Linked DNA regions of Homo sapiens: all the other regions are linked to region 3. Evidence: fine-mapped expression QTL. A gene starts in region 3. Each other region holds a variant in brackets. All regions are shown on one strand. Distances are from middle to middle. Region 1 overlaps GSK3B (glycogen synthase kinase 3 beta). Region 2 overlaps LOC105374065 (a long non-coding RNA gene). Region 3 holds the start of GSK3B (glycogen synthase kinase 3 beta).

The links. PIP is the estimated chance that this variant, and not a neighbour inherited with it, causes the effect. A credible set is the group of variants that fine-mapping cannot tell apart.
Region 1: its variant is the best candidate, but not a certain one, in a credible set for the expression of GSK3B in whole blood (INTERVAL, PIP 0.60).
Region 2: its variant is the best candidate, but not a certain one, in a credible set for the expression of GSK3B in whole blood (INTERVAL, PIP 0.72).

Annotation. Positions count from the first base shown.
Region 1 is chr3:120,037,303-120,041,541 of GRCh38, reverse strand. The region is part of intron 1 of GSK3B (glycogen synthase kinase 3 beta); the gene reads left to right. It also overlaps the pseudogene RFKP3. Among named protein-coding and RNA genes, the nearest start is that of MIR6529, 45 kb to the left of the region's middle. The variant T/C (reference allele first, on the strand shown) is at 2,340.
Region 2 is chr3:120,156,378-120,160,616 of GRCh38, reverse strand. The region is part of intron 1 of LOC105374065 (a long non-coding RNA gene); the gene reads right to left. Among named protein-coding and RNA genes, the nearest start is that of GSK3B-DT, 63 kb to the right of the region's middle. The variant C/T (reference allele first, on the strand shown) is at 1,593.
Region 3 is chr3:120,092,800-120,097,038 of GRCh38, reverse strand. It overlaps GSK3B (glycogen synthase kinase 3 beta), which reads left to right and starts at 2,592. Exons shown (of 11, transcript NM_001146156.2): 1 at 2,592-3,692. The coding sequence starts at 3,605. It overlaps GSK3B-DT (GSK3B divergent transcript), which reads right to left and starts at 1,935. Exons shown (of 3, transcript NR_186629.1): 1 at 1,261-1,935. RefSeq lists enhancers at 1,484-1,803, 2,083-2,377, 2,004-2,413.

The sequences.
Region 1 (4,239 bases), 55 kb after region 3:
TTAATATAAGTGACTCTAAAGAATCAAAGTTCTTTTCTGGTCTGGGGTAGCCAACAATGATCACATTGAGGATTTCCTTATAGAAGTCTTTTTTGAAGGTATGCATGATATGTGTTTCCATGGGCTTCTTTGTATTCTTGTAGTATGGGTTCCATCCTGTGCTCACCACCATCTTATGGACATCTCTACTTCCAGCACTGGCCCAACTACAATAAATGCCGGTGGATATATCAGCTGGAAGGTTATCTACCACTTACTCAGGAAAATTAGCTGCAGGGATGCCCAGCTGCTTGGAGCCGCAGCCAAATCCCTGCACCACTTGGCCCCAGCAGAAGTAAGGCAGATGTCCCATAATGTAGCCTGTTCGGGGTTTGGCCCGTGGCCTGGTCTGCATGTTTTGCAGAGCCACCCTTTACATGGTGCCTGAACCCTGGACCAGCAAGGGGGCAGGAGCGTGGGCTCTGCCTACTGTGGAGGCACACCAGGGCCCGGACGATGCCAGTGACACAGTGTGGCAGATCCTTGATGCTGCCCACCCTACAAAAGCTGCCTGGCGACTTAGGTGCATGGAGTCCCTTTAAGGAGGGATACTTAGGCTGGGAGGGAATAGGTTCATAGGGTGTTGATTCCCAAGAGTGAGAATTGTAAGGAGGAGGAGTAACATGAGTAGGGGAAGGATATGAAGCAGGATCTAGGATGGCAACAGCTGCCTGAGAGGAAAGGGTTGGGGTCACTGAGCAGGGGAAGACAGTGTAGGGGATCCCATGTGATGGTCTTTAGGCATGGGAACTGGCTTTTCTAACCTTTTATTATCTTTCCAATATTTTAACATGAGACCTAGGGGGCTAGGTCTTTTAACAAGAGATTGGGGGGACTATCTTTGTTGCTGTTTTTATCCTTTTTACTTCTTGTCTTGCTTGGCGTATTTCCCATGTTGGGTCCTAGTTAGGCTGAATCCCTTGTACTAAAGACTTCTTGCCTATTCTTCTCTGGGGGCTTGTTAAGGCTCAATCCTTTGTATCAGTGATTTCTTGCCTATTCTTCCTTGGGGAGCTTGTTAAGGCTCAATACCTTGTGTTAGAGATTTCTTGCCTATCCTTTAGCCCCACCTACTGGAGGTTTCTTGCACCCTTTTTTCGCTGCATCTGCTCTGGCCACTTCCCTCGCGGGAATATTTCAGGTCCCTCTTAGCATTGATGGCGGGTCAGTATAAACTCCTGACAGGATCCCCAAAGGGCCGCCCTAAGCTGTATGAGGTGACCACGGAACTGCCGATAGGACCCACTCACTCTGCACAGCAGTAGTGCTTAGTACCATTCACACAAGCAGCACTGCAAGCAGTAGTGCTTGTGATCATTTACACACTTTTAACCTCCAGAATCCCAACCACCAAGGAAATACTTTGTCGCCCCTGCGACCTTCTGACTTTGGTCTGTGCACAGAGTTACCTAGTCGCTGTGGTATGTGAGCCTCCTTTCCCCGAGCTGCCGGCCTGTTTCTTTCCCATGTTGCTGAGAGTCTGGGTTTATTTGTCACACTGGGTGGGCCTCAATTCCTTTATCCCTGAGGCTGCTGCAACGAGGCAGTGGGGCGCACCTCTTCACGGGAGAGGACCAAGACCCTTTCCCAGAGGAGAATGGGAATCCCGGATGAGCCCGCAGATTTGTTGGAGATAAATGCTCAGTGCCAAAAGTTTTCTCAGCAAGGCAATTTACTTCTGCAGAAGGGTGTATCTTGCAGATGGAGCAATGGCAAAAGCACAGGGAGCACAGGAGAGAAGGGGTTTTTATCTCTAATGCATAGTCCCTACCTCTGTGTCACTCCCGCATGGGCTGGGTTCGGACTACACAATCTAAGCAGACCCGATTGGCTACTTGTGAATATTTTTTCCAAATAAGAAAAGGGGAAGGTGAGTTACAGTGATGGGATGTGTGGTTTCGAAGGGTGATGTGTGGTTTCTAATGGGTGGAATGGGTGCAGAGTGTTTAACCAAGGGAACAGTTGTAAGCTATTGATAAGAGCTGACAGGAAGATTGGTTTTTTTTTTACAGTAACTAGAGGCAAGGAGGCATGGAAAACAAGAAAGTTGAGTTTGAGAACAAAAAACGAGGAAGTTAACAACCTGAACCTTTGAAGAGAAATTCAGAAAAATTCATTGTATCTTACAGACATAAGTTTTCAACTCACTTGTGTAAATATCTATGAGTGTGATTGCTGGGATTGTGTGGTAAGACTACATTTAGCTTTGCAGGAAACTGCTGATGTGTCTTCCAGAATGGCTGTACTATTTTACATTTCTGCAAACAGTGAGTGAGAGTTCCTGTTGCCTCACATTTTCA[T/C]CAGCTTTTGGTGTTGTCAGTGTTTGGGATTTTAGCCATTCTGTTCCAGTGGATGTATAATGGTATGGCATTGTTTTAATTTACAATTCCCTAATGACATATGATGTTGAGCATCTTTTCATATGCTTATTTGCTACCTGTATATCTTCTTTTGTGAGGTATCAGTTCAGATTTTTTGTACACTTTTTAATTCATTTGTTTTATTATTGAGTTTTAAGAGTTCTTTGTATATTTTGGATACTAGCCCTTTATCAGATATGTGTATTGCAAATATTTTCTCCCAGTCTATGTCTTGTCTTTTCATCCTGTTTCATAGTGTCTTTCTTTCAAAGAGCAGAAGTTTTTAATTTTAACGAAGCCCACTTTTCCATTTTTTTTTTTTTTATGGACTGTGCTTTTGGTGTTGTATGTAAAAAGTCCTCGTCAAACCAAAGGTTACTTGGATTTTTCCTGTTATCTTTTAGAAGTTTTATAGCTTTGCATTTTACTTTAGGTCTATGATGCAGTTTGAGCTAATTTTTTAATTTTTGTGAATTTTTGTGCATTTTGAGTTAATTTTTGTGTAAGTTGATGTGTGTTTATTTGCATGTAGATGGTCGCTTATTCTAGTACCATTTTTCAGAAAAAGACTGCCATCCCTTTTTGATGTCCTCTTTCAATGATGCACATGTTTTTTTGAGACAGAGTCTCACTCTTGCCTTGGCTGGAGTGCAGTGGCTTGATCACAGCTGACTGTAGCCTCAACCTCCCAGGCTCAATCAGTGCTGCCATCTCAGCCTCCCGCGTAGTTGGTATCATAGGTGTGGACCAGGGTTTCACCATGTTGCCCAGGTTGGTCTTGAACGCTTGGGTTCAAGGAGCACACCCACCTTGGCCTCCCAAAGCACTGGGATTACAGGCATGAACCACCATGCCTGGCCTCAGTGGCACAGTTTTGAGGGTGAATTATGATAACTAAAATTGAAGAAGAAACCTGAGATTGTTGTAATTAATAATTTGACTTCATATTATGCCTTTAAAAATAGCTTAGGAGGAAGTAACATGTTGAGTAAGCGCCTGGGCTCTGGGATAAATTCCGAATTTGCTATTTACTTGCTGTGACATTGGACAAGTTACTGAACTGTGCCTCAGTTTCCTTGTATGTAAATGTATTTTTAGGTTAAATGAACAATATTTAATATAAATTGTTTAGTACAGTATCTTGCATATGTTATAGCTATGGAAGATTATTAGTAATAAAGACTTCTTTAGATGTTTTATATATTTTTTATTCATCAGTTCCTCTTATTTTATTCTCTATAGTGTATTACAGGAAAATATAATAGTGTTAACCTATGGACTGTTTGTGTAGTTATTGATGTCATCTGGCAGAAGCAGATTTACATAAGGGAGTTTAATGACTGACCTAGAATAACCATCATAAAGAGCATAAAATGTAAAAAATGGAGTTCTAAATGCATGCTTATATGCTCAGTATTTTCTGAAACCACTAAATACCATTAAATACCTCAAGACTAAAGGTTTGATGTGTAAGATGGTAAAAAAAAAAAGAGCTGTAGTGCTTTATTTTTATTTTTTATTTACTTCTTTTTTTGAAATAGGGTCTCTCCCTGTCACCCAGTCTGGAGTTCACTTTATAAAACATATTTCCTTCCTTTGCATATGACGTATTACACACTACCGGCTTGCTTAATATATTTAGGATTGTTTCTTATTTTAGATTTTGAGTTATCTCTCCAATAAGAATACAAGTTCTTCGGGATAATGTGTCTTCAGTTTTTCAGTCTGTCACCATTTCTGGATGGAGAAGCTCATGTTTCTTAATTGCTTAAGAAGTTAAGCAATTTGGATAATTGGATAAGCTATTACTTTTAAATTATTGCTTTATTTTATCTTGCCA
Region 2 (4,239 bases), 64 kb before region 3:
TAGGTGACAGAGCAAGACTCTGTCTCAAAAAAACAAAAACAGAAAAATATTATGCACTTTGTAATAGAAGAAAATATATGTAAGATAATCTGCTATGCACCACTTAATACTCATCTTATTTAATATTTATAACCACCTAGCAAAGTAGTTATTGACTCTGTTTCACAGATGAGGAAACTTTAACTGGGAGAGGTTAGGTCACTTGCCAAAAATCACACAACTGGTTAGAGGCAGAGACTGAGTTTGCACTGAAATTTGACTTCATTCCAAAGCCTTTTGTGGACTCCCTAAAGCTGGTTACAGAGCATGTGCTACAGGCATGCTACCAGAAGACAGAAGGAATTTCAACCCGGCAGGGCAGGGACCCAGCCTGAGGTTTTCTTAGGACACCAAGGTTTCCTTAGGAAAAGCAAGCTGGTCTGGTTCTGTAAGCATATTGCAAAACTCTCCATTGCTCAGTCATTGCATCAGCATCCTGGAGGCTGGAAGGGAGCTCCCTAGAGCTACCTGGTCCTCCTCAGTTTCAGAAAGCTCAATGCAAAATACAGGTGATACTGACAGCAAGCAGTCTCCCTGTTTAAAAAGATCACGGTCAGTCCTGCAAACTGAAAAACTTTTCTCAAGGATTGTGCTTTGTAAGTGGCACAAAAAGATGATTCTGCGCAAGAGACCCAGAAGACCCTGTGGCAAATGGAAACAGTGCTACTCTCAGATCTTCTACTGAGCTGAGGGAAGAGCCACAATATCTCTTTTTTTTCTTTTTCTTTTTCTTTTTTATTTTTTATTTTGGAGATGGAGTCTCACTCTGTCACCTAGGCTGGAGTGCAGTGGTGCAATCTTGGCTCACTGCAACCTCCGCCTCTTAGGTTCAAGTGATTCTCCTGCCTCAGCCTCCTGAGTAGCTGGGATTACAGGTGCCCACCACCACGCCCGGCTAATTTTTGTATTTTTAGTAGAGATGGGGTTTCGCCATGTTGGCCAGACTGGTCTTGAACTCCTTAACTCAGGTGATCCACCCGCCTTGGCCTCCCAAAGTGCTGGGAATACAGGCGTGAGCCACTGAGCCCGGCCCACAATCCCTTTTCAATTCAAACCCACTTTGCTAGAAAAATCTTCATTCCTCCCTACTTCCTGCAGGATGAAATCTCACCTTGGTTTGGGGCTTGAAATCTCATTTTCCCCACTAGACTGTGAGCTCTTTGAGCCTAGAACTTGTTATAATTATCTTGGAATCCCCCACACCTAGCACTGTGCCTGGCACATGATCAGTGCCCAGCAAATGCTTGTCAAAGAAGAATTAATCAAGGGAGGAAGACTGGTCTCACCAGAACTGTCTTAAGGGGGACCCCAGTGAGGCACAGCTCACCCTCCCACTAAACTTACCTAAAACTCTCCTTGTTCCTGCCAGCTGGGTTTGCTGTCTGTATCTGGGGCATACCTAGGCCCAGATCAGGCTCAACACTTTTGTTCACACCAGCTGCTTTCTCCTTCATTCTAACTACCCCAACCTGAAGTAGCTTTTCCTCTTTCTGACCAGTTCCAGCTGTCCTCAGATTTATTAGGCAATAAATTGCATACTCCTGATATGCCCC[C/T]GACAGCAATTCTACTGTTGTCTTGGGCTGTTCTATAAATCCTTTATTGTTAAGGTTTCACATGCTCACATCTTACCTGTTCAAATAGATTATCAGATACTGGAGGGCAAGTGCCCTGTATAATCTATCACTGCATTTTCATGCTAGCCTCTGCAGTGCCTGACACCTAGGTGTCAACCAACATTTCTAGGTTTATTTTGAAGATGGGCCAACTCTCTATGCTCCCATCTTTCTGTTTTTACCAAGAGTGTCCTGAACAGACAAAAAGTAATTTGGTAGCAATTTTCTGTCAGAACATATTTGAAATTTAACATTTCTGAGAATCTCTGCTGTCTCATTGGAAATGAAGGAAACAAACATTTGCTGAGGGCCCACTATGTGCCAGGCACTGTGATAGGAGCTTACATATACAGCTAGAAGAAATTGAGCCACCAAGACCTGAGGAGGAAGGTTCCTGTCTCAGCCCATTTTCTGCTGCTATAACACAATACCACAGACTGGGAAATTTACAAAGAACAGAAATGTATTTCTCACAGTTCCAGAGGCTGGGAACTCCAAGATCAAGGCGCTGGCTGGTTCAGTTGCCTGGTGAGGGCTGCGTCCTCCAGAGAGGAGGAACATCGAGTCTTCACATGGTGGAAGGCAGAAGCGTCAATCAGACAAATGCTATATGAAGCCTCTTTTGTAAGGGTCTTAGTCCCATTCAGCTGGGAGAAGCCCTCATGACCTAATCACCTCTTAAAGGCCTAAATCACCTAAATTTAGGTGACCTAAATCACCTCTTAATACTATCACCTGAATTTTGGGGCGGTCACATTCAAACCATAACAATCCCTAAAACCCTGGACCCAATGTCTCCAATATCCTCAAAAAACAAAAATAACAAAACACCTTTCTGGATGGTTTCTATCCATGAACAGCTGCAGAAAGCTGATGGGGACCAAAAAAAGAGGGAAACCAGCTTAATTAATCCTGCTGCTGTTGCTGCTGCTCCCACCATAAAATATAGTAAAAATTGGAAGTGGGATACAGATCTGTCAACACATTCTTCTGATGTCACAAGTAGGCACTTTTACGCTCAGGACAAGGAGGCCATACCAATGGAATGCAGCCTGGTGCCTTATTTCCAGCAGTTACCCTCATCACTCCAGAACTGCGGGTGTCCCATGACTGGGCCAGGGTGGCCTGGGCCTTGCGGTCAGGAGCCACTGCTGTCAATCCACATCCTAAAAGGATTTCTTCTCTCTCAGGTCCTGCCTGCAGATCCCGGGATGTACCCGGTCAAGGTAGGGTTTTAACATTAGCCTTTTTTAAGTTCCCAAGATGATTTTAATGTGTGGCCAGAGTTTTTGCCTCTGAGCTTTGTTTCTGACCTCCTGGGATGCCAGAATGAAGATTCTGGGTTCTGTGCATCACCCTATCCCCAAGCCTTGATCAACCCTGGCCTGAGGCAACCCCACTCCTCCCTAAACATAGCCCCCAGGCATCAAGGAAGGCAATGGATTACTAACATTCTGCTCCACTATACTCCTTCCTGTTCCCCTCTTTTATCTGAAGTGCGGGCCCCTCCTCTCCGGGAGCCTTTTCCTGCACACCCTCAGTCCCCTGCACCTTCCCTCTTGGCAACAGTTATGATCCAGCACCTGGCCAGCACATACTCACCCACTACCTGGTGGTGGAATACAGCCACTCACATGGTCATGCTTTGTCTCCTCCCAGAAATCACAGACTCCTTGGGGACAAGAAACATTCCTTGTACCTCTTTATGCTTTAACAGTGACAAGCATGGAATGCTGTGCACACAATAGACATAAGAGGTGCTTAAATATTGACGGGAGGAAGAGAGGGAAGGAAACAAGGAAGGATAAATTCTTATTCAGCATCTCTCATGAAGCTTGTGGTGAAACAATGAACAAGTAAGTAGAAGATAAAATAGTTTCCAGAGAGTGGTATGTGTAATTTAAAAATTAATAAATCAGCATAAGGAGATGGGCAATGGATGAATAAATAAATGAATGTATGAACTTACCAAATTTCTGGTAAATGCAAACAACACAAATATTTAAGTTATGCCCACCCAGGATTTTTCCCACCAGATGTATAGAGCTAGAGGGAGCCACTAAATGTTTAAATTAGTTTGTGAGGGCTGTCATAACAAAATACCACAGACTGGGTGGTTTAAACAACAGAAATTTGCTGTCTTACAGTTCAGGAGGCTAGAATTCTGATATCAAACTGTCAGCAGTGTTGCTTCCTTCTAAGGATTGAGGGAAGTATTTGTTCCAGATCTCTCTTCTTGGCTTGTAGATGTCCATCTCTTCCCTGTCTTTTTTTTTTTTTTGAGATGGAGTCTCGCTCTGTCGCCCAGGCTGGAGTGCAGTGGTGCAATCTCAGCTCACTGCAAGCTCCACCTCCCGGGTTCATGCCATTCTCCTGCCTCAGCCTCCCAAGTAGCTGGGACTACAGGCACCCGCCACCACACCTGGCTAATTTTTTGTATTTTTAGTAGAGACGGGGTTTCACCATGTTAGCCAGGATGGTCTCGATCTCCTGACCTCGTGATCCACCTGCCTCAGCCTCCCAAAGTGCTGGGATTACAGGCATGAGCCACCGCGCCTGGCCTCTTCCCTGTCTTTTTACATTGTCT
Region 3 (4,239 bases):
CCATAAACTCTTGATCTTGAGCTAACATGATATGCACATTATAAGATACACACAGAAATAAAAAAAGGATTAAAGGTGCACTATTTTAAAGATAAATTTCAACCGGCCCGGTGTGGTGGCTTACGCCTGTAATCCTGACACTCTGTGAGGCTGAGGCAGGCAGATCACCTGAGGTCGGGAGTTCGAGACCAGCCTGACCAACATGAAGAAACCCCGTCTCTACTAAAAATACAAAAGTAGCTGGCATGGTGGCACATGCCTGTGATCCCAACTACTTGGGAGGCTGAGGCAGGAGAATCACTTGAATCGGGGAGGCGGAGGTTGCGGTGAGCCGAGATCGCGCCACTGCACTCCAGCCTGGGCAACAAGAGTGAAACTCCGTCTCAAAAATAAATAAATAAATAAAGATACATTTCAATTATTTAAGGTCCCAAACCATTTTGTTTTCACCCTCCTACTGCTATCGGGCCCCTAACAATTATTAACACTTTTTCCAATGCCTCATTGGCCAAGGGATGTTTTTAGGTTGGCCTGCAGGGTTTGAAAATTTGGTTACCAACATTTAAAAATGCAGAGATTTCACACAAAAATCCAATTTTGGGGTTTCTTTTGGGAGGAAAAAAATTGAACATCTGAGAACACTGGACCCACATTCCTGAGGGCAACAATCTGCTAGAGTTGAGCAGCTGTTCCTTTTAGTTATGGCATGGATATTCCAATTTGCCATTTTCCCTATCATTCCCCATTGTCTTACACAAGGCCAGTCTCACTCATTTGCTTTACTTGTCTGGCCTCTGTAGCCATTTGAATCTGCAAACACTATCTAGACCTTTCCTGTCTTCCATCAAAGCTTACTTTGTTCTGTCCCAAGTCCTTCATCAGTGTTTCAAAGCAAGAGCCAGGTAATCTGATCAAATATAGGTCCTTTAACATGTGCTTTCTGGAGACAGCATCTTAACAGAAAGAGATGACTCTGCAGGTAGAAATTACAGGCACCACTGGATTACAATCAGGATGGCAACTGTCTGTTCTACTTTCTCTGTTATCTTGACGTAGCCATACCTCACTGTTCTAAAGCAGACCAAAGGAACTGGTTCTATGGTAGAACAATGGACGCTGGTCTTATGTATGAAATCTTCTCAAGCTGCACTTTTATAGATCACCCTAGTTCCAAAAGATCCAAAGCTACCACGGGCTCCTCTGACCCCCCCATTTCCTCGGAGGCTTCAGGATATCCGGCCTGACGGCATTTCCCCTCACCTGCTTTCGGGGCCCGTTTTGCGCTGGGCAGTTGCGCCCAAGGAGCGCGCGCATCCAGCATGAGCTCATTTCTCATGGGCGTTTCCAGAGGCCCGGCCGGGCCGCGCACACCAAGCGCAGCAAGCCTCTGTATCAATGGCCCCCGCGGCTGGGCGGGGCGCGGCCGCCCAAAGGCGCTGCCTTTCTGGAAGCTTTGTTCCCATTTTAGCGTCTGAGAGCTTGCAGCCGGCTGGGAAGGCCCCCTTGGTCCGTCTGGCCCTTTCGGGGAAGAGGCCAACACTCGGCACACGCGATCCACGGCAGAGGGGAGCCTTGGGCGCGCAGAATTGGCTGCGCCCCGCCGAGAGCCTCCTGTGGGTGGGGAGAGCCCCTCCACCCCTCTGCTCGCTTGAGCGCTCAGAGCCCAGGGCCGCCGACCGCAGCACTTTCCGATTTGCTGCACCGAGGGCCCGCGGTCCCTGTGTGCGGTTTCCACCGTTGTTGGAGGCGGCCGCAGGCGAACCGTCGGGTCGTCAGCCACGACCCGAGTCAGGCATCTCCCCGCTCCTGGGACCGGGGCCGAAGGCCAATCACACTGCAGCTAGGTCTTGCGATTGGACGGCAGTGAGAGCCGATTGGCCGCCGCCGCGAGTTTCGGGCTCCCTCCCTCTCCCTTTTGCCCCAACTCCAGCGCCTAAGCTTCAGGCCAATGAGACAGCGCTTTATAGACGCCCTCCCTTCGCTTTCTTCTCCCCACCTTGGAGAGGGAGGGGAAGTCCTGACTGGCCAGACTGTCCTCGGAAGCCCCCTTCTCTTCACCAATCACCGAAGGAGGTACGCTCCCAGCGGAGTTTTCCAGCCAATCACAAAGCGGCGGCGGCGCCCAGCCGTGCAGTTTCACCAGCGTCTCTGGGTTTCACCGTCCTCAACTCTTCAAGCCTCTTCGTAAGGGCCGGCGACTCTGATTGGCCACTGTTGCCATTGTCGAATGTCTCCTCCAGCCAGCCACCGAACAAGGCGAATTCACCCTTTCCGTTCGGCTACCTTCGGCATTTTCCGCTCTTTGGGCGTGGCTTCCCAGCGTCACTTTCTAATTGGTTTCTCAGGCTGATCGGCTTTTTCCGGGAGGAGCCGCAAACAAACGACGTCCGTGATTGGCTCCGTTCGGGCTTCGGCTCCCAGCCGAAGCGGGCGAGCGTGGGGCTCGGCCGGCGATTCCCAGACGCCTGTTACGCGGGCGGCGGGGCGCTGGGCGGTGTAAGGCTGGGTGGGGGAGGAAGGAGGTGGAGGACGAGTAGGAGGGGGGAGGAGGAGTGGGGAAGTGCAAGGCGGCTGCGCAGACAGCGCTCCTCACACAGAGCAGCTCCTGACCCGGGCGAATGCGGGCTTGTGCCGCCGCCGCCGCCGCCGCCGCCCGGGCCAAGTGACAAAGGAAGGAAGGAAGCGAGGAGGAGCCGGCCCCGCAGCCGCTGACAGGGCTCTGGGCTGGGGCAAAGCGCGGACACTTCCTGAGCGGGCACCGAGCAGAGCCGAGGGGCGGGAGGGCGGCCGAGCTGTTGCCGCGGACGGGGGAGGGGGCCCCGAGGGACGGAAGCGGTTGCCGGGTTCCCATGTCCCCGGCGAATGGGGAACAGTCGAGGAGCCGCTGCCTGGGGTCTGAAGGGAGCTGCCTCCGCCACCGCCATGGCCGCTGGATCCAGCCGCCGCCTGCAGCTGCTCCTGGCGCAATGAGGAGAGGAGCCGCCGCCACCGCCACCGCCCGCCTCTGACTGACTCGCGACTCCGCCGCCCTCTAGTTCGCCGGGCCCCTGCCGTCAGCCCGCCGGATCCCGCGGCTTGCCGGAGCTGCAGCGTTTCCCGTCGCATCTCCGAGCCACCCCCTCCCTCCCTCTCCCTCCCTCCTACCCATCCCCCTTTCTCTTCAAGCGTGAGACTCGTGATCCTTCCGCCGCTTCCCTTCTTCATTGACTCGGAAAAAAAATCCCCGAGGAAAATATAATATTCGAAGTACTCATTTTCAATCAAGTATTTGCCCCCGTTTCACGTGATACATATTTTTTTAGGATTTGCCCTCTCTTTTCTCTCCTCCCAGGAAAGGGAGGGGAAAGAATTGTATTTTTTCCCAAGTCCTAAATCATCTATATGTTAAATATCCGTGCCGATCTGTCTTGAAGGAGAAATATATCGCTTGTTTTGTTTTTTATAGTATACAAAAGGAGTGAAAAGCCAAGAGGACGAAGTCTTTTTCTTTTTCTTCTGTGGGAGAACTTAATGCTGCATTTATCGTTAACCTAACACCCCAACATAAAGACAAAAGGAAGAAAAGGAGGAAGGAAGGAAAAGGTGATTCGCGAAGAGAGTGATCATGTCAGGGCGGCCCAGAACCACCTCCTTTGCGGAGAGCTGCAAGCCGGTGCAGCAGCCTTCAGCTTTTGGCAGCATGAAAGTTAGCAGTGAGTATTGGTTTTATTTTACACCCCTTTTCCACCTCGCCCTTAAAATAAGAAACCTCGAAATACCAGGATCTGAAATTATTAGACCTCCTGATAAACAGGCAATGGAAAAGGGCAAAACCTATCTTCAGTCAAGGATGAAGCAGCTCCCTTTTTACTCCTCCCATACCCCCTCCCCCGGTCTCATTAACCTTGAATTGAGATAATATGATATTTATTTGGATGATTCGATTTCAAACTGCTTTCTTGTACTTTTCTTGCTGTTGGTAGTCAGTTTCATCAAGTGCTCGAGTGTTTCCACGTTAAAGTAGTGATGACAGTGTTTACTTGCCCATCCTTTAGAATAAAGAGAAGGACAAGATTTGATTACTAAACCATTATGCACATTTGCAGAATTTTTGGAATTTGGAATGAGAGAATATTTTAGGTCTCAGGGGTTATCATAGTTTGATATACTTAATAGAGACGTTAAATGTCCCACCCTCCCAACATTTTTTTCTTGTTTGTATGACTACACATAATATTTGTTCTTAATCTGTGGATGAAC